Homo sapiens: one gene and its partners. The gene in region 1 interacts genetically with each later gene. Each region holds a gene or a part of one and is shown in the gene's direction. Other genes may lie near its edges.

Region 1 (9,910 bases):
GAAAGAAAACAGTCTCAAAATTTATATGCAGTCCAATTCCATTTATACAGCATTCTCAAAAATGCAAACTGAGTAATGGGGAACAGATCAGTGTTTGTCAAGAGTTATAAGCAGGGAAGGGTGTTATTCAAAAAGGACAGCATGGCTGGGCATGGTGGCTCATGTCTGTAATCTCAGCACTTTGGGGGGCCAAGGCGGGTGAATCACTTGAGGTCAGGAGTTCAAGACCAGCCTGGGCAACATGGCAAAACCCCACCTCTACTAAAAATACAAAAATAAGCTGGGTGTGGTGGTGTGTGCCTGTAATTCCAGCTACTCAGGAGGCTGAGGACCAATAATCGCTTGAATCTGGGAGGCAAAGGTTGCAGTGAGCTGAGATTGTGCCATTGCACTCCAGCCTGGGTGACGGAGTGAGGCTCTGTCTCAAAAAAAAAAAAAAAAAAAAAGGACAGCATGAGGGAGTTTTTTGGAGTGATGGAACTACTTCATCAGTGGAAAGAAAAACATAAAGCTGTCTTTATCTCCAGATGATATGCTTATATAGGAAATCTGAGGAAATCTACAAAAACATTTTCTAGAACTAATAAATGAGGAGAGCAAGGTGGTAAGATACAAGTTCAATATACAAAAACTGATTGTATTTCTATGTACTGGCAATAACAAACCAAACATTGAAATAAAAATACCATTTACAACAGTATCAAAAACATGAACTACTTAGGGATAAATCTGACAAAAGATATATAAAACCTGTATCCTGGGCTAGGCAAGGTGGCTTGCACCTGTAATTCTAGCAGCTCAGCAGGCTGAGGTGAGAGGATTGCTTTGAGTCCAGGAGTTCAAGGTTGCAGTGAGCTATGATCATGTTGCTGCACTCCAGTTTGGGCAATACAGCGAAACTCCCTCTCTAAAAAACACCCACCCACATACTGAAAACTATAAAATATTGCTGACAGAAATTAAAGAAGACCTAAATAAATGGAGAGTGTGATACCTTATTTATGAGTTGGAAGACTCAATTTTGTTAAAATGTCAATTCTTTTCAAATTCATGTACAAATTCAACACAATCCCTATGATAATCCCAGGTGGCTTTTTTTTTTCCAGAAATTAAGAAGCTAACTTTACAACTCATAATTGGAGGACTAACACTACTTAATTTCAAGACTTATCACAAAGTTACAATATTCAAGACAGTGTGGTATTGGTATCAAAATAAACAAACAGATCAATGAAATCAAATAGGGAGTCCTAAATTAGATGCAAACATATATGGAGAACTTATTTTTGACACAAGCACAAAGACAATTCGGTGGAAAAAGGATATTCTTTTCAGCAAATAATGCTGGAGCAATTAGATATCTATATAGGAAAAAAATGAATGCCGATCCATACCTTGCACCATATGCAAAAATTAACTCAAAGTAAAATCATACACCTAAATGTAAAACTGAAAACTATAAAACTTCTAGAAGAAAACTTTGGCAATCTTCTCTTAGACAAAGATTTCCTAGATATGACATTAAAGTATAACCTAAAAAGAACAAACTGGTCATTTAAACCTTTTCAAAAATAAACTTGTGTTTCTTCAAAACACACTGTTAAGAGAATAAAAGGTAATCCTCAGATGGGGAGAAAATATATGTGCAAGTCACTTATCTGATAAAGTACTTTTGTCCAGAGTATTTTTAAAACTCTCAAAACTCAGTAATAAAAGAAGTAACCCGGCCGGGTGCAGTGGCTCACGCCTGTAATCCCAGCACTTTGGGAGGCCAAGGCGGGCAGATCATGAGGTCAGGAGAGCGAGACCATCCTGGGTAACATGGTGAAACCCCATGTCTACTAAAAAATACAAAAAATTAGCTGGGCATGGCGGTGGGCACCTGTAGTCCCAGCTACTCGGGGGGCTGAGGCAGGAGAATGGTGTGAAACCAGTGAGCCGAGATCGTGCCACTGCACTCCAGCCTGGGCGACAGAGCGAGACTCCATCTCAAAAAAAAAAAAAAAAAAAAGAAATAACCCAACAATTTTTAAATATGTGCAAAAAATTTGTACAGATACTTAACCAAAGAAGATATACAGATGGCAGATAGACTCATAAAAAGATGTTCAGCATCATTAGTCATTTGTGAAATGCAAATTAAAATCATGAGATACCACTACACGTATATTAAAATGCCTAAAGTTAAAAAGATAGACCATGAAAGTGTTGTTGAAGATGTACAATAAGAATGCTCATACACACTATTGGGAAACCAAAATAGTACAACTGGTTTGGAAAACAGTTTGGCAATTTCTTAAAACGCTAATGTGGAGGCCAAAGCAACTCCATCTTAGATGCTAATCCTCCATGTTAACTTCTGATTATCCCCAGTTCCAGAAAAACCTCTAAGATTTCCATTTGACTCATTCCTTGTGTAAGAGCACCACTTACTGTAAATATTGCCCTTAGGTCAAAACAACCTTGATGTTATCATTCTTGCCATAAATTCTGTCCTTAAGCAATTATCTTACACATTCCTTCTGAAGCACCTTTCTCTATAGCACAGAAACCCTGGGTCTGGTGGATAATGGCAGGGATCCACCATCTTGTCTTGCTCCTGAGACATGGCTTCTGTTTGTTTGTTTAAATTGTATTTATTTATTAAATGTTTGTTTCTGAGAAACTGGGTATGTCAGCCTCTTGCTTTGGCCTCTCAGCTTTCTCAGACTTTTAGGGGTAGGTTTGCATAGGCCTGTCCCCTGCAGGACAGTTAAACACATTATCTACCATCATATCCAGTCATTCCACTCTTAGGAGTGGTAGAAGGGAACTGAAAACATATGTCCATACAAAGACTTGTACACGAACAGTCATTACAACTTTATTTGTAGGAGCCCCAAAGTGGAAACAACCCAATGTCCACCAACAGGCAAACAGATAAGCTCTCACGCATTGTCAGTGGTAATACAAAATAGGATAGCCACTTTGGAAAACAGTTTGGCAGTTTCTTACAAAGTTAAACATACCATATGTTTCAGCAATCACATTCCTGCATATTACAGTAGGAAAATTAAAACTTATGTTTCACATCAAAATCTGTACTTAAATATTTATAGCAGCTTTATTTATAATGGCTTCAAATTAGAGACAACACAAATGTACTTCAGTGGGTGAATGGATAATGAATTATAATACATTCACATTGTGGAATAAAAAATTACAAACTACTGATGTGCACAACATAGATAATCTCAAATGCATTATGCTAAGTAAAATAAATCAGAAAAGAAAAGAAAACGCTACATACTATATGATTCAATTTATATGATATTGTGAAAAAGGCAGAATTGTAGGTATAAAAAACAGATGAGGCCAGGCGTGGTGGCTCACACCTGTAATCCCAGAACTTTGGGAGCTCGAGGTAGGTGGATCACCTGAGGTCAGGAGTTCCAGACCAGCCTGACCAGCATGGTGAAACACCATCTCTACTAAAAATATAAAAAATCAGCCATGCGTGGTGGCGCATGCCTGTAATCCCAGCTCAGGAGGCTGAAGCAGGAGAATCGCTTGAACCCGGGAGACGAAGGGTGCAGTGAGCTGACATTGCGCCATTGCACTCCAGCCTGGGCAATAAGAGCAAAACTCTGTCTCAAAAACAAAAACAAAAAACAGATGATACACATCTGTGTTTAGAAGCACCCTGTGCTCACCTCTATCATCTAACATATCTCTGTGTTGTACTTATCAGTTTACTGTGTTCCTTGTTAACCTATTACCCTACGACTAGAGTTTAGCACAGTGGTTGGTATATGGCCAGGACTCAATAAATTCTCATTGCTTGCAGAATTGCCCTGACCTGGGCCACGTATTTAGAGAAAACTTCTGGCTCTCTTCGAGGCTCTTTCCTCTACAAAAAATGAGTAACCCATGGGGCCAAGGAGATATGCTCACCCAAAGCCTAGTTTCCCTCTTCTGGAGTCTAGACCATGTTCAGGGTACCAATACCCCTGGAATTTACTGCCCAAATGACACCATGGCCTGCATGAGCCCTTCTCAGCTTTCACCTGAGGGCAGACCCAGCTGCTAATGTGAGCACTCCTCGATCTGAAAAGGTGGCAAAGGCATGGCTGCTTGCAGAGGTACGGGCAGACGTTGGATGTGGCTTGGAGTATCAGGATGGTATACAAGGCTCCTGGCAGGGAATGCAGGTGGGCACCAGAAACCAGAAAAGAAAGGGAAGTGGGAAAAGACTGGGAGCCATTTCTCCCCACACTGCCATATTCCAGCTGTGTTTCCAGGTATTCTAAGGAGTCTAGGGATTCTGAAGATGAACCTGGCCTTCTACATCATTATGAGGGTCTATTTGTCAATGTAGGAAAACAGACTATATTTTACTTTACAATTTGTTGCTTGATTTATAACTAAAATATTTAAACATACGGTGTGCTGGACTCCATTTGTACTCTTACCCAGGGCCTGCAAATGTTAGGAGCTGGCCTGACCAAGGGAATAAAGATTACGAAAATGTTCACCTTATTTTATTTTATTTTATTTTTTTGAGACAGCGTCTCGCTCTGTCGCCCAGGCTGGAAAGCAGTGGCACAATCTCGGCTCACTGCCACCTCCGCCTCCTGGGTTCCAGCGATTCTCCTGCCTCAGCCTCCCGAGTAGCTGGGATTACAGGCGCCCACCACCACGCCCGGCTACTTTTTTTGTATTTTTAGTAGAGACGGGGTTTCACCCTGTTGGCCAGGCTGGTCTCCAACTCCTGATCGCAGGTGATCCGCCCACCTCGGCTCCCAAAGTGTTGGGATTACAGGCGTAAGCCACAGCACCGGCCGACCTTATTTTGTGGTTATAGAGGGTACATTTTATAAAATTACTGCCACGGAGTGGGTAAGGCTCCTTTTCTTCAAGCCGCACAGAACGAATGTTCAGCGGTGCAATTTCATTGCAATCTATTTTTGCTTCACTTTGCTCATAATGACTCTTTTAGGATTTCCTCAGGTAACAATCTTCTTTCAATGTTCAATAATCCAAGCAGAACATTTTCTCACTTCATCCGCCTCCCATGCTAGGTTCACACTGTGAAATTGGCTTATCTCTGACCTAACCACTTCCTTCACCAGACATAGAGCTGGTGTAGCTCAAGGGAAAGAGGCACGGCGCTGGGAAATGATTAGGCCCCACCGTCCCAAGCAAGAGCTCAGGGGAGTTCTGAGGCTGGAGAGACCATTCGGGATATCACCCCGGGTTCCTGAGAACCTGAGATCTGCGGGGAGGCGTCAGGCATCCGGAAACGCCCGAGTCTGGGGAGACGGACCCCCTCAGACTTTCCTCTAGGAGACTCTACAGGTAAAGGGGAGTCCTGGGACTCGAGGGGAGCCCCGGCATCCAAAGGTAAGATCAGTTTTGCTCACCTGGCCGGGCGGCGTTGCGTCGCCTTGGTAACCACAACTTCCGGCTTGAACCGGAAGTCCGCGAAGTTGCTCTACAGAAAGTGTGCCCGCCCCCTCTGGGGCGGAGAGACTCAGCCCCTCCCCCTCAGCGGATAACCTGGGACTGACCGTTCCCTGGGGATCCGACGGGCCCCAGAGGACCCACGCCTGAGCCCCGTGCGACTCGTGGCCTTTGGGCTAGAAGCCATGGACGCCTTCACCCGCTTCACCAACCAGACCCAGGGCCGGGACCGACTCTTCAGGTGAGTCAGGTGCCAGCGGCCTCCGCCCCTTTCTCGCCCTAACTCGGCTCCCGTGCCTATTCCCCTGCACCCGGGAAAAAGGAGGTGATAGCCTAGTAGATGGAAGCAGGAAGGACGTTGCCAGCTCCTACGGAGGGAGTTTAGTATCCGAGCCCCTCCTTACCCTAAATTCAACGTGAGTGGGCCCAACGCACCCGCGTCCCGTCCTAGCCCCGTGCACGAAAGCCCCAGTGCCTGGCACCCTAGCCGCCTCGAGACCGCCGACGACGGGACACCGGCTGACAGATCCTCCTCCCCTCCTAACTTTGCTCTCCGGGCACAGAAAGATTGGTTCTCTCCACTCAACATTCTTCCGAGGGATCTCCTTTAAAGAGAAACTTTGGATTAGTATTTGTGGCTAGGGAAGCAAACCACTTGGTGTGACTTCAAATATCTCTCTTTTTTTTTTCTTTTGAGACGGAGTCTCGCTCTGTCGCCCAGGCAGTGGCGCGGTCTCGGCCCACTGCAACCTCTGCCTCCCGGGTTCAAGCGATTCTCCTGCCTCAGCCTCCTGAGTAGCTGGGATTACAGGCGTGCACTACCACGCCCGGCTACTTTTTGTATTTTTAGTAGAGACGGGGGTTTCGCCATGTTGGCCAGGCTGGTCTCGAACTCCTGACCTCAGGTGATCTGTCCACCTCGGCTTCCCAAAGTGCTGGGATTACAGGTGCGAGCCACCGCGCCCGGTCTCAAATACCTCTTGAAATGTTTGAGGAGAGACAGAAGTTCTCTTCCATTATTACCCAGGCTGTATCATTGAGATACTGCATGTGGAATAGTTTTGTAAATTGTAAAACAAAATATAGCGGGGATGAGACCACACCAACTGGATTGGGGGGAAATACAGTGGGGAGAAGCTCAGAAAGAACTAACTGCACCTCTAAGGTTCATGCTGTGCTACTGAAAATATTAAACAGAGATTGTGTCTCTTTTTCTTTTGGTTCCATAAGAAACGAAAAGAACTGAGAGATTGTATCTTTAATACGAATACAGTACTAGTTCATGATGTTTTAGAGATTTGGTTGATTCTTGCTTAATGAAAAAATATTTACAGTTGCAGTTTTATTTAACAGCTCTGCATTCTCTTCTGGGTGTGCAAGTGCTGATACAAACAGATCAATTAGAATGGCCCCAATAATGAGGCTTTTGGAAGCCATCTTTATGACAGCTATTGTTCCCAGTGTTTTGCAACTATGAACTTATATAACCCTCATCACAACCCTATGAGGTAGATACTCTAAATATTTTACCCACTTCAGATGGAGAAACTGAAGCAGAAAGAGGTTAATAGGTACTACAATGGCAGAACTGAGGGATTCACATCCACGCAAATGACTCCAGTGCCCACTTAACTACCAAGCTATACTGGCTTTCTCATTAGTTTGATAGGTTTTTTAAATGGTTACTTTATATACAAGCTTCATTAAATAGAAATTTCATTAAATAGAAACCTGTAATTCCAGTGTACCTAGAATGTACCCTGCAGGGTTTATCAAGGAAGTTGGTTAAAAAAATAATCATTTAGGCCGGGTGCAGTGGCTTACACCTGTAATCCCAGCACTTTGGGAGGCTGAGGTGGGCGGATCACAAAGTCAGGAGATCGAGACCATCCTGGCTAACATGGTGAAACCCTGTCTCTACTAAAAATACAAAAATTAGCTGGGCGTTGTGGTGGGCGCCTGCAGTCCCAGCTACTCAGGAGGCTGAGGCAGGAGAATGGCATGAGCCCAGGAGGCAAAGCTTGCAGTGAGCCAAGATCACGCCACTGCACTCCAGCCTGGGCAACAGAGCGAGACTCCTTCTAAAAAAAAAATAAAAACATTAAAAATAATAATCATCATCATTTAGGCCGGGTTCAGTGACTCACACCTGTAGTCCCAGCACTTTGGGAGGCTGAGGTGGGCAGATCATGAGGTCAGGAGTTCGGGACCAGCCTGGCCAACATGGTGAAACCCCATCTCTACTAAATATGCAAAAATTAGCTGGGCGTGATGGCACATGCCTGTAATCCCAGCTACTCAGGAGGCTGAGGCAGGAGAATCGCTTGAATCCGGGAGGCGGAGTTTGCAGAGAGCCAAGAACGCACCACTACCCTCCAGCCTGGGCAACAGAGCGAGACTCTGTCTCGAAAAATAATAATAATAATAATTTAAGATATGTTTATTCCAAAAGATCTGAGATCTCTAGCATTCATTTCCCAACCTCCTTGATGATCTGTATAACCTTTATGACCACACTGGCATTCATAAAATAATACCTTGCTTTCTGTGCCAATAATGCTCATGCAAACACGGTGAACATTCCTAAAACCTGTCAGACTGTAAGAAGTGTGGCAAGCACCAACCCCACAAAGTGACATAGTACAAGAAGAGCAAGGATTCTCTGTATGCCCAGGGAAAGCAGCATTATGACAGGAAGCAGAGTGGCTGTGGTGGGCAGACTAAGCCGATTTTCCAGAAAAAGTCTAAAACTACCAAGAAGTTTGTGCTAAAGCTTGAGTGTGTTGAGCCCAGTGAAGATCTAAGAGAATCCTGGCTATTAAAAGATGCCAGCATTTTGAACTGGGAGGAGATAAGAAGAGAAAGGGCCAAGTGATCCAGTTCTAAGTATCATCTTTTGTTTTATTATGAAGACAATAAAATCGAGTTTATGTTCACTTCAAAAATAAATAAATAAAAGTAATGTCTTACTGTTGGCCTGATCCTTATTATTAGACCAAAGCTCAGAAAGGCAGAATCATTGACATGACCAGTCCTGTAACCAGGAAGGACACTTAAAAAAGAGAAAGCGATTGTTTATGATTCCAGTCTTCTCTTTTTATTTCATTCCTAGTAACAAGTTCACTATTTTAGAAAATGAAAATGTACCGCATTTTTATTGAGAATAATATTTATAGCATAAAGGGATTCAAATGCACTTACAAGACAGTAGGAACCAGGCACCTACTTTATTAGTAGATTGCCAAATGGATTTGGATGTGTGACTATGTGATGTAAAATTTCTCCTACATTTATATTAGTAAGTCATTGTTATTTGTAAGCATGACAATAATCACTTTATTAAATATATAGTATTATTAAGCAGGATTCTGCCTGTATTTTATGTAAAATACGAATAAGTTTTGAAAGACAACTATGAAAACATATTTATACTAATTTATGTACTGATGTGTATTTGGTCCTTTCGTTTATAAAAAATTAAACAATCTTTAAACTGTGGACTTTTCATTTGGTTCTGGTTTGAGTTTGTGTCCTGTCACATAGATGGTAGGTTAAGTACATGGTAGAAAAGTTCATTTTAGAAATCTGAAAATCAGGCCAGGCACAGTAGCTTATGCCTGCAATCCCAGCACTTTGGGAGGTTGAGTAGGGCAGATCACGAGGTCAGGAGATCGAGACCAGCCATGACCAAAATGGCACAACCCCGTGTCTATTAAAAATACAAAAATTAGCTGGGCGTGGTGGCACACACCTGTAATCCCAGCTACTCGGGAGGCTGAGACAGGAGAATCGCTTGAACCAGGGAGGCAGAGGTTGCAGTGGAGCCAAGATCACACCACAGCACTCCAGCCTGGCGAAAGAGCGAGACTCGATCAAAAACAAACAAAAAAAAAACAAAGAAAGAAATCTACACTGGGGAAGAGAAGGAATATGGATCTTTGTAGACTTAACATGAGGGAGATTTTGTACAGTTTCTCACTTTGACTATATCCATTTCTCTGTGCCAGCAAAAGGCCTTTTGGAGGCACATTGGCTGCATTATTGCAGAATTTGTTTTCATTACCTTTGTGTTAAATTTCCATGACATGTTCTACCCTTTGGCTCTCCTGTAGAATGACTGTTGCAGAATTTTGCTTTTGTAAGAGTTGCTACATGAGAAATGGTCTTGGAAATGTTGTCTGGAGGCATGTGTTTCTCTTTCCCTTACTTCCTGAATTAAGTTTTATTTGGTTTGTAAATCATTCTTCTCAATTTTTTTTTTTCCATTTCAGAGCCACTCAGTACACATGCATGTTGCTTAGATATTTGTTAGAGCCCAAAGCTGGCAAAGAGAAGGTGGTAATGAAGCTCAAGAAACTGGAGTCCAGTGTGAGCACTGGTCGTAAATGTAAGTACCCTGTTTCTTGAGGGACAGTGACTCCTGGTTTAGAATCCTCAGCCTCAGACCCTGTAATTCACGGAGTAATTT
Region 2 (9,928 bases), on another chromosome or scaffold:
TCATGTCTTCCTTTTCTTCCATTTTTTTTCTTTCATCATTTTCCCAGAGGAGTAATTTTTGTTCTGTTTTGTTTTGTGTTGTTTTCTTTTCTTTTTTTTGAGACAGCGTTTCGCTCTTGTTGCCCAGGCTGGAGTGCAATGGCGCAATCTCGGCTCACCACAACCTCCGCCTCTCAGGTTCAAGTGATTCTTCTGCCTCAGCCTCCCAAGTAGCTGGGATTATACGCATGCACCACCATGCCCGGCTAATTTTGTATCTTTAATAGAGACGGGGTTTCTCCATGTTGGTCAGGCTGGTCTCTAAGTCCCAACCTCAGGTGATCCGCCCGCCTCGGCCTCCCAAAGTGCTGGGATTACAGGCGTGAGCCACTGCGCCTGCCTTGTTTTGTTTTGTTTTGACAGCATCTCGCTCTGTCGCCCAGGCTGGAGTGCAGTGGTGCAATCTCGGCTCACTGCAGCCTCCACCTCCCAGGTTCAAGCGATTTTCCTGCCTCAGCCTCCCGAGTAGCTGAGAGTACAGGCACGTTCCACCTTGCCTGGCTAATGTTTGTATTTTTAGTAGAGACAGGGTTTTACCATATTGGCCAGGCTGGTCTCGAACTCCTGACCTCAAATGATCCACCCATCTCGGCCTCCCAAAGTGCTGGGATTACAGGTGTGAGCTACTGTGCCCAGCCAAGTTAAGGGCTTTTTATGTAAGCTTGATCACGTAGACATGATCGATTATTAACTCAATCTCCAGCTCCTCTCTCTTCCCCAAAGGATGAGGGGGGAGGCTAAAAGTTCAAGCTTAAGAGGCTAAACTTCAAATCCTGGCTTGGTCTTCCTGGTGACCAGCCCTCATCCTGATGCTGTCCAGGAGCCCAGCGAGTCACTTCATTAGAAGAAAAGGCACTCCTGTCACTCAGGATGTTGCAAGGGATTTTGGAGCTCTGTGTAAGATGCTCTTATTGGCCGGGCGCCGTGGCTGACACCTGTAATCCCAGGACTTTGAGAGGCCAAGGCGGGCGGATTGCTTGAGCTCAGGAGTTCCAGACCAGCCTGGGCAACAAAACAGCCTGAACAACATGGCAAAACCCCGTCTCTACAAAAAAATACAAAAATTAGCCGGGTGTAGTGGTGTGTGCCTGTGGTCCCAGCTACTTGGGAGGCCAAGGTGGGAGAATCGCCTGACTTGGGAGGTCGAGGCTGCAGTGAGCCAGGATCCCGCCACTGCAGTCAAAGCTGGGGTCAGAGTGAGACGCTGTCTCCAAAAAAAAAAAAAAAAAGATGCTCTTATTACTTCTATCACTCAGGAAATTACAAGGATTTTAGGACCTTTGTGTTGGGAACCAGGGCAGAGACCAAATATATATATGTGTGTGTATGTATATATGTATATATATATATATATATTTTTTTTTTTTGAGACAGAGTTCGTTCTTATTGCCCCGGCTGGAGTGCAATGGCGCGATCTGTGCTCACCGCAACCTCCACCTCCTGGGTTCTAGCGATTCTCCTGCCTCAGCCTCCTCAATAGCTGAGATTACAGGTGCTTGTCACCACGCCCGGCTAATTTTTATATTTTTAGTAGAGACGGGTTTCACCATGTTGGTCAGGCTGGTCTCGAACTCCCGCCCTCAGGTGATCTGCCCGCCTCGGCCTCCCAAACTGCTGGGATTACAGGCATGAGCCACCGGGCCTGGCCCCAAATATATAGGTCTTATTATGTCACAGTGCTTTTATTTGTTGAGTTATTTTTTTCTGTTTTCCCCATGAAAATGTAAGCTCCACCTTGGCTTACACTGTGCCAGGCTACTATTTGTAGGCAACTAATTGAGCACCTACTACACAGCAGGAGCTCAATTAGTATTTCTTGAATGAATTAAATCATGAGGGAATGAATGAGCCAAATAAGCAATGGAGGAGGAGACAGATGTTCCAAACAGAGAGGACTGCCTGTGTAGCGGAGCTGTGGCCACCAGGGGTTTGAGAGCTGAAGGAAGGCCTATAGGGCCAGTGTACATAGTACATACCAGGAGAGGTAGTGATAGATGAGGAAGAGAATTAAGCATGGCTAGATCCTAACGGACCTTGAAGGCTGTGTTTGTTTTAAGGGCAATGAGAAGGCATGAAAGGGTTTTTTTTTCAGACGGAGTCTCGCTCTGTCACCCATGCTGGAGTGCAGTGGCGTGATCTCGGCTCACTGCAAGCTCCACCTCCCGGGTTCACGCCATTCTCCTGCCTCAGCCTCCCGAGTAGCTGGGACTACAGGCGCCCGCCACCACGCCCGGCTAATTTCTTTTTTGTATTTTTGGTAGAGACGGGGTTTCACCATGTTAGCCAGGATGGTCTCGATCTCCTGACCTCGTGATCTGCCCGCCTCGGCCTCCCAAAGTGCTGGGATTACAGGCGTGAGCCACCGCGCTCAGCCATTGGGTGTAAAATTAACAGGGACTACTTTCTATCACTATGTCGGAGGTGGATGACTATGCTAACTAGACTTGAAAAGCTACAGACTACGGATCTCTTCATTGGCACACAACTGAGCCACCTGAGTAAATCACTCTCCCTTCATCCCTTGTTGACATTCAGCAAATCCTGATGGTGCTTCTGCCATGCACCAGGCCTCTACCAAGGGCTGCAGCAAATATAAACATGACTGTGGTTCAGGCTGCCCCCCAAAAAGGAGCCTCCTAATAGAAGGAGTGCCCCCTTCATCTTCCTGTGTCCCCTGCCCTGCCAGTGTTTGCCTCCCGTCTTCAGTCCTGTTTTCAGTCACCTGCTTCATATCGTGTCCATCTTTTTTATTTTTTATTTTTTTAGAGATGGAGTTTCGCTCTCGTTACCCAGGTTGAAGTGCAGTGATGGGATCTCGGCTCACTGCAGCCTCCACCACCTGGGTTCAAGCGATTCTCCTGCCTCAGCCTCCCAAGTAACTGGGATTACAGGCACCCACCACCATACCCGGCTAATTTTTTTTGTGTGCATATATATATATATATATTTTTTTTTTAATTAAAAAGTAAACTTTAATGTTGAAAATGCAAACTTGGGGAGGGCAGAAAGATCACATACAAGGCTGTCACTTCACACTTGGAAGGTTGCACAGCGGCTGGGCAGAGGTGCATTTTTTGTATTTTTAGTAAAGATGGGATTTCATCATGTTGGCCAGGCTGGTCTCGAACTCCTGACCTCAGGTGATCCACCCGCTTTGGCCTCCCAAACTGCTGGGAATACAGGCGTGAGCCACTGCACTCAGCCCTAGTGTCCTTTGTGCCACCCCAAGGCCCAGGCAAAATTAGGTGCTGTATACTTCTCTGAATGAACATGAAGTTTTCCCCTTGAGGCTTATGCTAGTGGGCAGCCAGTTCCCCAACCTGGGGATTCTCTCAAGGCTTACAGAGCTTACTGTATCAGTCATTTCAACCATCCACGCCAAATAGGGAAGAATAACTCTTGTCTTTCTAACTCACGAGACTATTATGAGGAGAAAAATATTAGAGGCTTGGCTGGGCACGGTGGCTCACGCCTGTAATCCCAGCACTTTGGGAGGCCGAGGCAGTCTGATCACCTGAGGTCAAGAGTTTCAGACCAGCCTAGCTGACATGGTAAAACCCCATCTCTGCTAAAAATACAAAAATTAGCTGGGTGTGATGGCCGGCGCCTGTAATCCCAGCTACTTGGGAGGCTGAAGCAAGAGAATCGCTTGAACCCAGGAGGCGGAGGTTGCAGTGAGCCGAGATTGTGCCACTGCGCTCCAGCCTGGGTGACAGAGCGAGAAACTGTCTCGGAAAAAAAAAACAAAAAACAAAAAACAACCTGGGTGTGGTGGTGCACACCTGTAGTCCCAGCTTCTTGGGAGACTAAGGCAGGAGGATTACAGGAGCTCAGGAGGTCAAGGCTGCAGTAAGCTCTGATTGTGCCGCTGCATGCACTCCAGCCTGGGCCACAGAATGAGACCCTGTCTCTAAAAAATAATAAAAATTAAAGGGGCTTTGCAAACGCGGAAGGTGTCTGGATGATTATCCCCTGCATGTGCAGTGCCTTGTTTACAATTAATTTGCTTTTTCCGTGTTTATTCAACAAATATTTATTGAGCCCTCACTCTCTGCCAAGCCCTGTGCTAGATGCTGGATAAGCAAGGTAAGTCTCTGCCCTCAAGGAACTTACACTCCAATGTGACTCAAGGGGAAAAGAATTTGAAAGTTGCTACTTACCCAGTCCCCTCACTGCACAGAAACTGAAGCCAGAGGTGTCCACACCTTTCTCCTTCCCATGCTCTGATAGCTCCTCACTGCTAAGCTCCCCATTGCCCGTGACCCCATGTGGCAGGTTTCCCGCCTGGGGTGCACTCCCAAAATGGTTTATGTAAATAATATTGAAAATTGGACCTTCTCTGCCAATAATGGGGCCGTTGCTTTTTGAAAAACTTCCCGTTGATAGTGTCTCCTATGACTACCCCTGTGTGGCTGTGTGGTTTACAGATCCAGTTGCCTCTGCTCTTGCATTGTGAGAGTCAGCAGAGGCCCAAGAAACCCCGATACTAGTTTGCTGCTGTTGGTGGGTTTTTTGAGACAAGGTCTCTGTCGCTCAAGCTGGAGTGCAGTGGCGCGATAACTCACTGCAGCCTCGAACTCCCGGACTCAAGCGATCCTCCTGCCTCAGCCGCCCCAGTAGCTGGGAGTACAGGTGCACGCCACCACGCCGGTTGATTTTTTTAAAAATTTTGTAGAGATAGGGTCTCGCTATGTTGCTCAGGCTGGTCTTGAACTCCTGGCCTCCAGCGATCTTCCCGCCGCGGCCTCCCAAGTTGTTGGGCTTCGGACGTGAGCTACGCGCCGGGCTCCCGGTTCTAGTTAAGATTTTGTTGCAGGCGATGAATAGTCACGTGGCCTCCAAGGTCCTAGATTTCTGAGGGGCGTCAGCTTGGCACCCTAATGTACTGTGATCTCTGGTCAGCTACCCACCCTCTTTTTGCTGTTTTCATCCTGGGGGCTAACCGCCAAGACATGGCCTCCAGTTTCCCTAGGGAAGCCTCCACAGAGGAAGGCACCGGCTGAGGCACCTGGGAAGACCAACCTGGGGAAGGTCTCCCTGCGCGCAGTCTGCGGGCTGGAGGGACCGGCCGAGCCTGCGCACTAGCGCCCCGCCGGCGCTGCTGAACTGAGAGGAAGGGGCGGGGCGTCGCCAGGTCGTGCCAGCATCCGCCGGACGCCGGAAGTGGTTCTCCGCCCCTGCCACTGGGCCATGGAGACTGTGGCACAGTAGACTGTAGTGTGAGGCTCGCGGGGGCAGTGGCCATGGAGGCCGTGCTGAACGAGCTGGTGTCTGTGGAGGACCTGCTGGTGAGGCCTGGCCCGGACAGAGGGAAAGGGAAGGTCGGAGGGCGGGTCCTGAGGAGAGTCAGGTAGGGGCCGAACCCTCCTCCCGGCATCGGCTTGGCCGAGGGAAGCCGAACTACGGCTCCCGGCAGCCTCCACAGCGCCTGGCTCCTGCCCGGAGGGCCTGCTATGCCGCAGAGGCTCCTGGGAGTTGTAGTGTCCTGAGCCCCCCACACCTCAGACTACGGGCCTGGAGCCCGACCGTGGTTAGACTGACGGGATCTGGGATCATGCAGGAGCTGTGAGCTCAGGGCGCTCCTCCAGCGGTGGAGGAATACAGTGACCATCATAAGGTGTCACCTATTACTGCGTCCGGCACGGTGCTAAGGCATCGCATGCCAGATCTCAGTCTTTGTAGCTCTAGGAGGTAGGCACTACTTCTATTCCTGGACAATAAAAGGTCCAGGCCCGGCAGGGTGGGGCAGGATGGGGCCAGCAGCCTCAAATGAGGACCGCGTGGGCTGTTGAGCAGTTCTGACAGCGTGTTTACTGTTCGGCCGCCGGGGTCAGCTGCTCCGGGAGCGGTGCCTGGAGCTGCCACCAGGTGGCATCTCCGCTCGGTACCGCCGCGGGGAGGGGAGACCGGGGGCCTCTGTCCCAAGAGCTGGCCCGCAGGCCCGGAGGAGCCGAAAGCCTGGGTCCCGGGCATGGAGATAGCAGAAGCTGGGGTGCCAGATACCGAGACCTGCGAGGGAAAGGGGCAGAGCCAGGGAGATGGCATGTCCAGATAGAGAATGGTTGACGCCCTACATTTCTAAATGATTCCTTTCCTCCCCTGTGGCAGAAGTTTGAAAAGAAATTTCAGTCTGAGAAGGCAGCAGGCTCGGTGTCCAAGAGCACGCAGTTTGAGTACGCCTGGTGCCTGGTGCGGAGCAAGTACAATGATGACATCCGTAAAGGCATCGTGCTGCTCGAGGGTGAGGCGCTGTACTCTCCCTTTCCCGCTGCCATCTGGGCTGCTCTGCGATGTGGGCCCCGTAGTCCAGGCACCTCTGAGTTGTCTCCGGTAGATTTACTGCACCAAGGGCTATACTTAGCTTGACGTCTCCCAGTGAACTTTTGGCTACTTACCGCCCACCATTGTTTTGCCAGACAGAGTGTAGCATGTCAGTTCCCCCAGGACTGTCTTGATCTGGGAAAGTGACTTGAGGTCACCCAACTAATCAGTTAATGGCTGAATTGGGACTAGAAGCTCCTGTTTTGTGAGACCTAGGCCCATGCCCTTCCCCCCAACACCACCACCGTGTTGCTTAGCAGCTATTGAGAATCTTTTGTGGCATGGAAGAGGTACAGAGGACTGTCCTACAAAATTGTGAGCAGATAGTGCTTTTTGTTTTTTGTTTTTGTTTGAGACGGAGTCTTGCTCTGTCCCCCAGGCTGGAGTACAGTGGCGCTGTCTCAGCTCACTGCAACCACCACCTCCCGGTTCAAGCAATTCTCCTGCATCAACATCCTGAGTAGCTGGGATTACAGGTGCCCACTACCACGCCCAGCTAATTTTTGTATTTTTTGTAGAGATAGGGTTTCACCATGTTGGTCAGGCTGGTCTCTAACTCCTGACCTCAGGTGATCTGCCCACCTCGGCCTCCCACAGTGTTGGGATTACAGGTGTGAGCCACCTCGTCCAGCCAGATAGTGCTTTTTGGATGGGAACCCTATTTCCTATTGGTTTTAGGTGGGTCATCATTTGTCAGAGGCCACAATACTTAACCACTTAGTTTCTCTGTAGCTCCTTGTGTTCAAATAATCATTTATAAGCACACAGTCAGTGTACAGCCATCCCTCTGTAGCCATGGGGGATTGGTTCTAGGAACCCCACCCCCACAGATACCAATAGCCACCCAAGTCCCGTATATAAAATCGCATGGTATTTACATGTAACCTGTGCACCTTCTCCCATATACTTTAAATCATCTGTAGATTACTTATAATACCAAATACAATGTAAATGCTGTGTAAATAGTATACTGTATTGTTTAGGGAATAATGGCAAGAAAAAAAGGTCTGTTCATGTTCAATACAGATGCAACTATCTTTTTTTTTTTTCTGAGTATTTTTGATCCATGGTTCGTTGAATCTATGAATACAGAATGCTGACTGTGTTAGCAAAGGATGCCTATTGAAAATCTATAAAAATGGCCAGGCACAGTGGCTCACACCTGTAATCCCAGCACCTTGGGAGGCCAGGGCAGGCGGATCACGAGGTCAGGGGTTCGAGACCAGCCTAATCAACATGGTGAAACCCTGTCTCTACTAAAAATACAAAAATTAGCTGGGCCTGGTGGCGCACACCTTTAATCCCAGCTACGCAGTAGGCTGAGGCAGGAGAATCACTTGAACTCGGGAGACAGAGGTTGCAGTGAGCCAAGATCACGCCATTGCACTCCAGCCTGGGCAACACAGTGAGACTCCGTCTCAAAAAAAAAAAAAAAAAAACTATAAAAATAAGACTCTTTCTTAAAAGATACAAATAATTTTACCCTATGTTTGTCTACTTCGGCAATTCAGATTTTCAGGTTTATTCTACAGCAGGGTGTAGGTGTAGAAGAAACAGCCTCTCTAAGTGTTGCCAGTCTAGTTGAGAAAACAGTACAGACAGGAAGATTTATAAACACCTGCAGAATTATTTAGCAACAAATTCTAGTGCATACAGTACAGTTATCCTCTGGGAAGTCTCTGAATTAAGAAAGTCAGGTGGGGCCAGGCACTGTGGCTCATGCCTGTAATCTCAGCACTTTGGGAGGCCAAGGCCAGAGGATGGCTTGAAGTCAGGAATTTGAGACCACCTGGCCTGTCTGTGTAACAAAGATGTTTAAATTAGCCAGGCATGGTGGTGTGTGCTTATAGTCCCAGCTACTTGGGAGGCTGAGGCAGGAGGATCACTGACCCCAGGAGTTTGAGGCTGCAGTGAGCCATGGACATGCTACTGTGCTCCAGACTGGAGTGACAGAGCGAGACCCTGTCTCCGTTTTTTGTTTTTTTTTTCCCGAGACTGAGTGTGCAATGGTGCAATCTTGGCTCACCGCAACCTCTGCCTACCGCATTCAAGCAATTCTGCTGCCCCAGCCTCCCGAACAGCTGGGATTACAGGCATGTGCCAACACGCCCGGCTAATTTTGTATTTTTAGTAGAGACGGGGTTTCTCCATGTTGGTCAGGCTGGTCTCAAACTCCCGACCTCAGGTGATCCGCCCGGCTCAGCTTCCCAAAGTGCTGGGATTATAGTCATGAGCTACGGCTCACGGCCCACCCTGTCTCTTTAAAAAAAAAAAAAAAAAAAAAAAAAAGGAAGGAAGACAAAGTCAGGTGGGGTCTTCGGGGAAGGCTGATTGAAGGTGAGTTTTGAGCTGATTTTTTTAAAGGGGGAGGGAGTCCTAACTTTTTTTTTTTTAAACAATAATTGTACAGCAGGCAGTTTAGTTAAAACCACAACGGCAGCACTTTGGGAGGCCAGGGCAGGCAGATCACTTGAGGTCAGGAGTTTGAGACCAGCCTGGCCAACATGGTGAAACTCCATCTCTACTGAAAATACAAAAATTAGCCAGGCGTGGTGGCGGGCACCTGTAATTCCAGCTGCTCGGGAAACCGAGGCAGGAGAATCGCTTGAACCCAGGAGGCGAAGGTTGCAGTGAGCCGAGATCACGCCATTGCACCGCAGCCTGGGCGACGAGTGAAACTCCGTCTGAAAAAAAATACCACAGCAGATGCCAAAACTGAGTCACGCTGCCTTTGGCTTCTCCAGGGCCCCGATTTCCTCATTTCAGTTGGATGGACCAGTTGACTGTAATACTGATAAAAGGCATGTTCTGTCACTGGGGTGTTGGCACAGCTGGGGTTCACCCTGTCCCAGAGCTCTGGCTAGGGTGCTGGGAGTGACTGGAGCTGAAAGGGAGGCTTAGGACTGTGACCCTCCCAGGATCACAGAGGCATTCAGAGAGTGGAAGGGGCCTCTGGGACACAGTATTAGGAAAGTATTAGGAAAGAAGCATTTCTCACCCTCTTCTCTGCCCCTCCCCAGAGCTGCTGCCCAAAGGGAGCAAGGAGGAACAGCGGGATTACGTCTTCTACCTGGCCGTGGGGAACTACCGGCTCAAGGTGAGGTGGGGACCCCGTTCCCTTCACCCTCCTCTGGGGCTGCAGGACCTTCTTACTGTGTCCTCCAGGGTGGAGCCCTGGACAGCGGGAAGGCTGAAGGGGTGCAGAGGTGCAGAGCGGTGTCAGATGAGGACTCCGAGGGAAGATCAGAGTGGCGAGGGGGTGGGGAGGAAGGTGACGTCAAGAGACTGGGTGCAGGCCCAAGCCTTGCGCTGTTATCTCCCGCAGAGTTGGGGTTGTTTGTGGACTCTACTCCGTGGGGTGGGGCTGGAGGGAGGGAGTGGGTGGAGGTCGAGGGAGGAGCCCCCAGGGCTGAAGAAGGGAAGGCCCTTCACGTGGGCAGGGGGAGTGGTGGATACTGAGGTGTAGCCGGCCCAGTGGCTCACGCCTGTAATCCCGGCTACTCAGGAGGCTGAGGCGGGAGGACTGCTTGAGCCTGGGAGTTTGAGGTTGCAGTGGGCTGTGATTGCG
Region 3 (10,134 bases), on another chromosome or scaffold:
AGATTGCACCACTGCACTCCAGCCTGGGTGATAGAGCAAGACTCTGTCTCAAAAAAAAAAAAAAATATATATATATATGTATATATATGGGTAAGTTACTGAATTTGGGGAAGTTCTTCAAGGTGAATAAAGAAGTTTATTCTTGCAAACCAATTTATTCCATGAGATAGGAAACATGATCTTTGGAGACATTGACTCACATGCTTACAGTTCTATAACCAGAGAGAGAAAATATTTTTGTTCAAATTCAGGTTAGGAAATTCTCAGAGAAGGATTCTAAATGGTCCTGCAGGTCCATCCCTAGACCAATCACCTTAACCAGGTGCAGTAGGCCCCTCCAATAAGTCCATGTCCTAATCCCTGGAGCCTGTGAACTTTATGTCTCAGGAGAGACTCTGTAGATGTGATTAAGGGTACAGGCCTTGAGACAGGGATATTATCCTGGGTTGTCCAGGTTGGCCAATCTAATGATGGGCCCTTAAACACAGAGAAGCTTTTCTGGGGGTCAGAGGCCTGATGACAGCAGAAGAGTTAAAGAGATGCGACATTGCTGGCTTTGAAGAGGTTGGAAGGAGGTAACCAGCAAGGAATGCAGGGGGCCCCTAACAAAGGCAAGGAGGTGAATTCCCTGCTAGAGGCTTTAGGAGGGTTTGCAGCCCTGGTGACACCTTGATTTTAGTCCAGTGAGACCTGTGTGAGACTACTGAACTATAGAACTGTAAAACAATACTTTTTTTTTTTTTTTGACATGGAGTCTCACTGTGTTGCCCAGGCTGGAGTGCAGTGGCGTGATCTTGGCTCACTGCAAGCTCTGCCTCCCAGGTTCACGCCATTCTCCTGCCTCGGCCTCCCGGGTAGCTGGGACTACAGGTACCCGCCACCACGCCCGGTTAATTTTTTGTATTTTTACTAGAGACAGGGCTTCACCATGTTAGCCAGGATGGTCTCAATCTCCTGAACTCGTGATCCGCCCGCCTCGGCCTCCCAAAGTGCTGGGATTACAGAAGTGAGCCATTGCGCCTGGCCACATTTTTGTTGTTTTAAGCCACTAAAATTGTGGTAATTTGTTAAGGCAGCAATAGGGAACTAATATACTAGAGAAGCAAGGCAGAAACCAGGTTCCTAGGTTTCAGTTCCTCCCCAGTTCTCTCTGCCTCATCTGCTGTGAGACAGCTTGCTGAATGAGATCCCCTACACCCTCCCCCACAGCACACTCACCTCATTCCACAGGAGTAAACTGCGTGAGAGAATGAAATAGACGATGTAGTGATAAGATGTAGAGCTCTGATTCTGCCTGAGCTCCTAGTTCCAGTCATTTTTTTTTTTGAGGTGGAGTGTCACTGTGTCACCCAGGCTGGAATGCGGTGACGTGATTTTGGCTCACTGAAACTTCCGCCTCCCGGGTTCAAGCAATTCTCCTGCCTCAGCCTCCCGAGTGGCTGGGATTACAGGCTCTCACCACCACCCCCAGCTAATTTTTGTGTTTTTAGTAGAGACGAGGTTTCACCATGTTGGCCAGGCTGGTCTTGAACTCCTGACCCCAACTGATCCACCCATCTCGGCCTCCCAAAGTGCTTGGATTACAGGCTAGAGCCACTGCGCCCAGACATTCAGTCATTTTTGAGGCAAGTTAGCTCAGAATTAAATTTCTGTCCTTACAATTAGCTATCCTGCCTAAATCATAAAGCTATGGTGAGAGAGGGATGGTTGCAGGAGAAGAGGTGTTTTTTGTTGTTGTTGTTTTTTTTTTTTGAGATAGAGTCTCACTCTGTTGCCCAGGCTGTAGTGCAGTGGCGCGATCTTGGCTTGCTGCAACCTCTGCCTCCCAGGTTCAAACAATTCTCCTGCCTCAGCCTCCCCAGTAGCTAGGACTACAGGCGCGTGCCAGCACGCCTGGCTAATTTTTTGTATTTTTAGTAGAGACGGGGTTTCACCGTGTTAGCCAGGATGGTCTCCATCTCCTGACCTCGTGATCCACCCACTTCGGCCTCCCAAAGTGCTGGGATTACAGGTGTGAGGCACCGCACCTGGCCGAGAAGAGGTTTTTTTAAAGGCCTTTTGATATCCGATAATGGTTTAATGTGATTCCCACAGGAAGCCACTGAAGAACACATTATTCTTAGATGCACAAAGACTCTTTTTTGTGGGAAATCCATTTAGCCACTTATTAGTTAAATTGATTTCCCACAAACAAGAGTGTTCTGAACTTAAAACATGAAAGCCGAAATTGGTTTTTTTTCTTCTTTTTTTTTTTTTTTAGTTGGAGTTTTGCTCTTGCCGCCCAGGCTGGAGTGCAGTGGCGCGATCTCGGCTCACTGCAACCTCTGCCTCCCGGGTTCAAGCGATTCTCCTGCCTCAGCCTCCCGAGTAGCTGGGATTACAGGCACGCGCCACACCAGGCTAATTTTTTTTTTGTATTCTTAGTAGAGATGGGGTTTCACCATGTTTGTCAGGCTGGTCTTGAACTCCTGACCTCAGGTGACCCGCCCACCTCGGCCTTCCAAAGTGCTGGGATTACAGGCGTGAGCCACCGGGCCTGGCTCTTTTTTTTTTTTTTTTTTTTTGAGACGGAGTTTTGCTCCTGTTGCCAAGGCTGGAATGCAATGGTGCAATCTCGGCTCACCGCAACCTCTGCCTCCCGGGTTCAAGCAATTCTCCTGCCTCAGCCTCCCGAGTAGCTGGGATTACAGGCGTGCACCATCACGCCCAGCTAATTTTTGTATTTTTAGTAGAGATGGGGTTTCTCCATGTTGGTCAGGCTGGTCTTGAACTCCCGACATCAGGTGATATGCCCACCTTGGCCTCCTGAAGTACTGGGATTACAGGCATGAGCCACCGTGCCCGGCCTTCTGTTTTCTTTAGAAGAAAACAAAAGCTCCATCAACAGAGGGGTGAGAAGCAAAGTGGGTAATATCTGACTATTATGTAATATTATCTTTGGTAGAAAGTCAAGAGACTTGGAATAAAACTGTTTTTTGGAGTTCTGAAATTTTTGTCTTATTTTATCTCTGAAAAATTTTTTTTTTGAAAATAATCAAAGAGGAGATGTTCACAAAACCTGTCAAGATGCCAAAACACCACTAATGGATCTTTAGGTCTTGGCTTACTTCATCCATTTGTTCACAGATATTTATTAAGCACCTGCCATTTGTCCTGCTGAACAAATCAAGCATGTTCCCCGCAGCCATTGTGTACAGCTAAGCAGGTGAATGGCACCCACTGGAGTTGCGTAGTGCACAACTTCCACTACTGCTGGTGGTTCTTGTCCTCATGGAGATTAAATTTAGTAACTTCTAGGAAGTCTTTCTCGAATCTCTATCCTCTTGCTCAGACTGGAAAAAGTGCTCTTATTATGTTTTCTTTTCTCTTTTCTCTTTTTTTTTTTTTGACACAGGGCCTCACTCTGTCACTTAGGCTGGAGTGCGGTGGCACGATCACAGTTCACTGCAGTCCCCACCTCCCAAGCTTAGGTGATCCTCCTACTGCAGCCTCCCAAGTAGTTGGGGCCACAGGTATGCACCACCACGACAGGCAAGCTAATTTTTTTGTATTTTTTGTAGAGACTGGGTTTTGCCGTGTTGCCCAGGCTGGCCTTGAACTCCTGACCTCAAGTGATCTGCCCGTCTCCTGCCTCAGCCTCCTGAGTAGCTGGGATTACAGGAATGCACCACCACGCCCGGTTAATTTTTGTATTTTTAGTAGAGACGGGGTTTCTCCATGTTGGTCAGGCTGGTCTTGAACTCCTGACCTCAAGTGATCCGCCTGCCTTGGCCTCCCAAAGTGCTGGAATTACAGGCGTGAGCCACGGTGCCTGGCCTCTCCTCACCTGCTTTAATTCTTTACTCAAATGTCACCTTTTTACTTTGAGGTTTACTTTTACCTTTGGAGGTTTGGAGTAGAGGAGGGATACTATCTGTCTAAAAAGAAAAACAACATTTAGAAATATAACAGTATGGGCCGGGCATGGTGGCTCAGGCCTGTAATCCCAGGACTGTGGGAGGCCAAGATGGGCGGATCACTTGAGGTCAGGAGTTCGAGACCAGCCTGGCTAACATGGTGAAACCCCGCCCCCCACCCGTCTCTACTAAAAATACAAAAATTTTCCCAGGGTGGTGGCGGGTGCCTGTAATAACAGCTACTTGGGGGGCTGAGGCAGGAGAATCACTTCAGCCTGGGAGGAGGAGGCTGCAGTGAGCCGAGATTGCGCCACTGCATTCCAGCCTGGGCGACAGAGTCAGACTCTGTCTCAAAAAAAAAAAAGAACGGTATGAGCAAAGAGTGAGTAAGGCAGTTATCAGATGTCTACTTTGCCAGGAATCAGGCTACAGCAAATAAAGGTTTATACATAATATTGATAATAAATGCCCAGCTCTTCCCCTGTAAAACTCCAATACTCTAAGATTTTTTTCATGAACACCGCCCCCCGCTGCTCCGACCCCTGCTTTTTTATTTATTTATTTATTTATTTGGTAGAGATGAGGTCTCACTATGTTGACCAGGCTGGTCTCGAACTCCCAGCTCAAGCGATCCTCCTGCTTCTGCTTCCTAAAGTGCTGGGATTACACCGCGCTCGGTCCTGAACACACATTTTGTTTGTTTGTTTGTTTGTTTACAAAACCCCTGGAGAACCCGCGTATTCTAACCTGGGCTGGTTTTTGTATTTTTGCAAAATAACACCCCACACATTCTCGTATCAGCGTGCAGATTTTTTTGCACCCAGTTTGGTTGTTTGCGGCCATAAGCTTTTCTTTAAGCCTTTCCAACCCGTCCTTCTAGAGAAAGTGTCTTCATAAGGAAGTCACACTGCTCACGCCTGTAATCCCAACACTTTGGGAGGCCGAGGCGGGTGGATCACTAGGTCCGGAGATCGAGACCATCCTGGAAAACACAGTGAAACCCCGTCTCTACTAAAAATACAAAAAATTAGCCGGGCGTAGTGGTGGGTGCCTGTAGTCCCAGCTACTCCGAAGGCTGAGGCAGGAGAATGGCGTGAACCCGGGAGGCGGAATTTGCAGTGGGCCGAGATCGCGCCACTGCACTCCAGCCTGGGCGACAGAGTGAGACTCCGTCTCAAAAAAAAAAAAAAAATAAATAAATAAAAAATAAATAAAAGGAAGTGACACTGGATAATTAAGAGACACACCATTGCGCCTTTAACACATATTCACACCCAGCACTGTCACATCCATCGTGCCTTGAGGACAGGCATAAATTTACGGCCTTCCTCCTGCGCTCCCGGCCTGCTCCTAGCCTTTGACTAGAGCCTGCGCAGCATCCCAGTCCCAGGCTAGGGCCCACCGGTGCCGCGCAGCCTCCTGGAAGCTGTGGGGAGTAGCGTTCCTCCGCTCCAGAACTACAACTCCCAGCAGGCCTTGCTCCTCTCCACCTCCCTCGCAGCGCATGGCCTGCCGGGAGGGGGCAGGTAGCCGGCGGGCCCGGTCCAATGGGTGCCGGCTTCCGAGGAGAGGGCGGAGGAGAGGAGGAAGGAGGCGAACTGTGGGCCCCGGCCCCATTCATTGCCGTGGCCGGCGGGCACTGGGGCCCCGTGTTTTCAGAGTCATGGAGGCGCTAATTCCTGTCATAAACAAGCTCCAGGACGTCTTCAACACGGTGGGCGCCGACATCATCCAGCTGCCTCAAATCGTCGTAGTGGGAACGCAGGTGAGAGCAGCAGGCGGCGTTCGCTCGGGCCAGACCCCGGCCGCAGGCCTGGTCGGTGCTGCGGCAGTGCCCACTCCCGCGCCAGCGCCCACTCCCGCGCCAGCCTTTGGGGCCTGTGGGAGGAGGGCCTTGCTGGGGGCCCCAGGGCTCTCCGGGCTCTGCCGCACCCGCCCTCCCGGGGCAGCGTTGCATCAAGGCGGAGAATCCGGGGCCCGGCCAGGGGCGGAGCCGGCGCGGCGGGCCTGGCTAGCCCGGCGGGTCCCGGGGACAGGAGAGGGAAGGATGGGGCCGGCGGGCGGAACTGGAGTCCGCTGGGACCGGGCGCGGCCTCGTCCGCGTGCCGCTGCCTCCAAGGGCACCTGGGGGACGCGCGGGGCACTCGGGTCTCGCTGGGCTCGGTGGGCTGGCTGTTCCCATCACTGTTGGCTTTCGTGAGACGGGTGTTTTATTTCCCTCCTTGCCTTGCCCAGGGACTGCGGAGTTAGTTTTGGAATCGCTCTGTTGAGGCTGAGAGACGCTACGGTGCGTGAGCGCCAGTGTTTTCCTGCAGTATAATTCCACCAGGTTTCGAGAACGCCGAAGCAGCATTTTAAAAAAAGAAAAACAAAACGTGTATCTAGAGTTCTGCGGGTGTTGGGAAGGAATATCCGATTTTTCTGCGTAGGCTGTGCTTTTTGTCTTCCACAGTTTTGTGATCGTGACCTAAATTGGGCATCAGTTTCTCTGGTCTTCTCATAGCTAACTCATTTTTTTTTGAATGCAGAAATGTTGGCAAAATAACTGTTATTTCTAGAGTGACAGAGGAGAAGTATAATTTTCCTTTTCTCTGCTACTTCGATTAGAGTTCAGAGAAACGGATTTTAGAAATTAGTATATTGATATTAAGTGCTTTCATTTCTTAATAGTATCTTTTCTATTGAGAAGGAGCGGTTTCCCCATCATTTTCCAGGAGGTACATAGTATAGGGTATAAGTGCTATCAGAAGGAACTTACTGTTCAAAGTATTAGTGGCTATCCAAACACTGGAAACTATAGACACCCTGTACTCGTTTGTTTGTTTGTTTGTTTTTTTGGCTTTTAAATAGTTGAAGCAATAGAAATTGTTTTAGAAACACATTTCCTTGGTCTGCGATAGGATTGGGAAAGATTCTGCTCAATCTTGCCTACGTATTCTAGTATTTGTAACAATATTTGTAATGTTTGGAGACTCAGAAGCATCAAACAAATTACGAGGATTATTTTTTATTGAACATAATTTTGTTCAGTCTGGGACATATAGTAAGTGCTCTGTAAATATTTTGAGTAAATATTGCTCACTCTAACCACAATGTTTTAAAACACTGGGACTTTTATCATCAAAACTAACCTGTTTTTGTAAAAAGTTAGAGATAATATAAATTAAGTCTTTGATAGTAAGTGATTCAGAAGTGTCTTCTAGCTGCACACTAGAAACTTTCCACATACTTTTAAAAGAGAGTCTCAGTGCTTTTTAAGCATGAGGAAGTAAAAGAATTAGGGATATAGTGTGTCAGCATAAATAGTTTAAAATCAATAAGTTGTTTTTTTCTTTTTACACAAAATAGAGTTTATTTTGGTCAGTAAACCTGTTGGCAAAATACAGAGTGGCAGGAGAGAAAAGTAAAGATCCCATCCTTCTGAAAGCCATTAACATGTGCAAAAACCATCCTAGTACTGACAGTTATATGCTATATTTGCATGTTGGTGTTTGAAATTTCTCAAGAGGTCAGTTTTTCTACTTGATTTAATGAGGGTTATTTCCATCTAAGTTCTTATTAGCTGATAATCAGTCTTTTACTCAAGTACAGAAGAAATACAGAATAGAAATTATCCGAGGTAGGCAGATCACTTGATTCCAGGAGTTCAAGACCAGCCTGGGCAACGTGGGGAAACTCCATCTTTACGAAAAATACGAAAATTAGCTGGGCATGGTGGTGCGAACCTGTAGTCCCAGCTACTCTGCAGGCTGAGGTGGGAGGATCACCTGAGCCTGGGAGGTTGAGGCTGTGGTGCGTGCAGGAGTGCATGTCACTGCACCCCAGCAGAAAGAGAGAGAATAGAAACTATTTTCTCCCCACACCGCCCCCCCCGCCCCTATTTTCTCCCCACACCGCCCCCCCGCCCCCGCCTTTTTTGTAGTGTGTTGGGGAAACAAGAATCTCTTCTTGGTTTGAATACTAGTATACCATTACTTTGTGATGTCTGCCATTTTTACTCTTTGGTGTTGTGTAACATATATGTATACCTCACATTTATATTTAATGAAGTAATTGTAGTGAGTGAGTTCCAGACATATAAGTGTTCTGTACTTAGTTCTGCCTAGTATACCTATCGGCAGTAATTGTGTCTTCAGAATACAGGTATAAATTAGCCAGGTGCTATGGTGTGTAGTGTGTGCCGGTAGTCCCAGCTACTTGGGAAGATTGCCTGAGTCCAGGAGTTTGAGGCTGCAGTGAGCTATGATTCTGCGATGGCACTCCAGCCTGGGCGACAGAGTGAGACCCTGATTCTTCCAAAAAAAAATTAAAAAACAACTTCAAGTGTAGTCTCTATCCTACATATTATCCATACCTTAAATGGCTTCAGTTTCTATCTTGTTGAACTTTTTGGAACAGTGATTCTCAGACTTGAGTGTGTATTAAGAATCACTTTGGTTTTTTTTTTTTGAGACCGAGTTTCGCTCTTGTTGCCCAGGCTAGAGTGCAGTGCCATGATCTTGGTTCACTGCAACCTCTGCCTCCCGGCTTCAAGTGATTCTCCTGCCTCAGCCTCCCACATAGCTGGGATTACAGGCATGCACCACCACGCCCGGCTAATTTTGTATTTTTAGTAGAGACAGAGTTTCTCCATGTTGGTCAGGCTGGTATCCAACTCCCGACCTCAGGTGATCCACCCGTCTCGGCCTCCCAAAGTGCTGGGATTACAGGTGTGAACCACCCCGCCTGGCCTAAGAATCACTTTGAAACTAAGTTTCCTGGATCCTGTCTCCAGAGATTTTGATTTTATAAGCCTGGGTTGGGTGAGGGACCATAGGTGATTCTGATACAGATGGTTCCTAGATCCTAATTTGAAAAACATATTAGTGAATCATTGGATTTTAAAATGCATGATACTGGAAAAAGCAGGAAAATTAGGGGAGGTTGAATCTATGGCATACTACCATCCAGTACCATGCTGACTTTGGTGGCATTCTTGCTTTAATATATCACTTCCCAGGCAACCATTGCTGACCCCTAAATGTTTTAAACTTTGGTTTTATGAAATGCCCAAGTAACACTCATTTGGGGGCTAGGGACTTGGAGGAGTGGAGGTGAGGGAATCCTGTTTACAGCTATCAGTCATTCACATGTTTTATGTGTTAGCTAAATAAATTGCTTTTATTTTTTCTAGTAGAGACCATCTGTGTGAAATGAACAGACACAGTGGGGAGAGAGAGAAGGCTGATGATACTTTTAGACCATGGTGTAACTTTGCAAGTAGAGGAGATAAGACTTAAAACAACTTTTGTGACTCAACTTGGGAAATTTAATCCTATTTCTTAAATTAAGAATTGGAAAGGGGAGCCCTCCAGGTATGTAATCTAAACTACCACCCAATATAGGTATCCGAATACAGATGACATTAACCTGAGACTCTGGCTTAGTGTTCCTAGTAATGTACTTTACACTTTTCCTTTTATTTCAGTGATTTCAGCATTCTATCTTCAGTAATTCAGACAAATGTAAAAGGAAAAACAATTTGGATTTTTTATTTTTATTTTTTTAGGGTCTGGCTCTTTCACCCAGGCTGGAGTGCAGTGGCATAATCCATAGCTCACTGTAACCTCAAATTCCTGGGCTCAAGCAGTCCTCTTGCCTCAGCCTCCTGAGTAGCTGGGACTACAGGCACGCATCTGGCTAATTTTTTTTTTTAAATTTAAAATCGCTGCCTTACTATGTTGCCAAGGCTGGTCTCAAACTCCTGGGCTCAAATGATCCTCTTGCCTTGGCCTCCCAAAGTGCTAGGAGTATAGGTGTGAGCCACTGCACCTAGCCTAAAAATAATTTGGATTTTATTTTATTTTATTATTTATTTTTTTAGAGATGGAGTCTTGCTCTGTTGTCCAGGCTGGAGTGCAGTGGTGCGATCTCAACTCACTGCAACCTCCGCTTCCCGAGTTCAAGTGATTCTCCTGCCTCAGCCTCCTGAGTAGCTGGGATTACAGGTGCATGCCACCACGCCCAGCTAATTTTTGTATTTTTAGTAGAGATGGGGTTTCACTGTGTTGGTCAGGCTGGTCTCGAACTCCTGACCTCATGATCCACTTGCCTTGGCCTCCCAAAGTGCTGGAATTACAGACATGAGCCACTGTGCTCGGCCTAATTTTTGTATTTTTAGTAGAGACAGCATTTTACAACGTTGGCCAGACTGGTCTCAAACTCCTGACCTCAAATGATCTGCCTGCCTCAGCCTCCT

What was found.
Region 2: of PEX11A (region 1) and FIS1, changing one suppresses a phenotype caused by changing the other (phenotypic suppression), as found in Homo sapiens cells (one study listed by BioGRID).
Region 3: of PEX11A (region 1) and DNM1L, changing one enhances a phenotype caused by changing the other (phenotypic enhancement), as found in Homo sapiens cells (one study listed by BioGRID).

Annotation. Positions count from the first base shown.
Region 1 is NC_000015.10:89,686,350-89,696,259, reverse strand, and holds the start of PEX11A (peroxisomal membrane protein 11A), read left to right. Parts: upstream 1-5,505; 5' UTR 5,506-5,627; coding exon 5,628-5,683; intron 5,684-5,846; exon of another isoform or gene 5,847-5,912; intron 5,913-7,979; exon of another isoform or gene 7,980-8,383; intron 8,384-9,713; coding exon 9,714-9,829; intron 9,830-9,910. UniProt on the Homo sapiens protein: May be involved in peroxisomal proliferation and may regulate peroxisomes division. May mediate binding of coatomer proteins to the peroxisomal membrane. Promotes membrane protrusion and elongation on the peroxisomal surface.
Region 2 is NC_000007.14:101,240,359-101,250,286, reverse strand, and holds the start of FIS1 (mitochondrial fission 1 protein), read left to right. Parts: upstream 1-5,205; 5' UTR 5,206-5,282; coding exon 5,283-5,327; intron 5,328-6,147; coding exon 6,148-6,280; intron 6,281-9,380; coding exon 9,381-9,457; intron 9,458-9,928. UniProt on the Homo sapiens protein: Involved in the fragmentation of the mitochondrial network and its perinuclear clustering. Plays a minor role in the recruitment and association of the fission mediator dynamin-related protein 1 (DNM1L) to the mitochondrial surface and mitochondrial fission.
Region 3 is NC_000012.12:32,673,805-32,683,938, forward strand, and holds the start of DNM1L (dynamin-1-like protein), read left to right. Parts: upstream 1-5,496; 5' UTR 5,497-5,559; coding exon 5,560-5,661; intron 5,662-10,134. UniProt on the Homo sapiens protein: Functions in mitochondrial and peroxisomal division.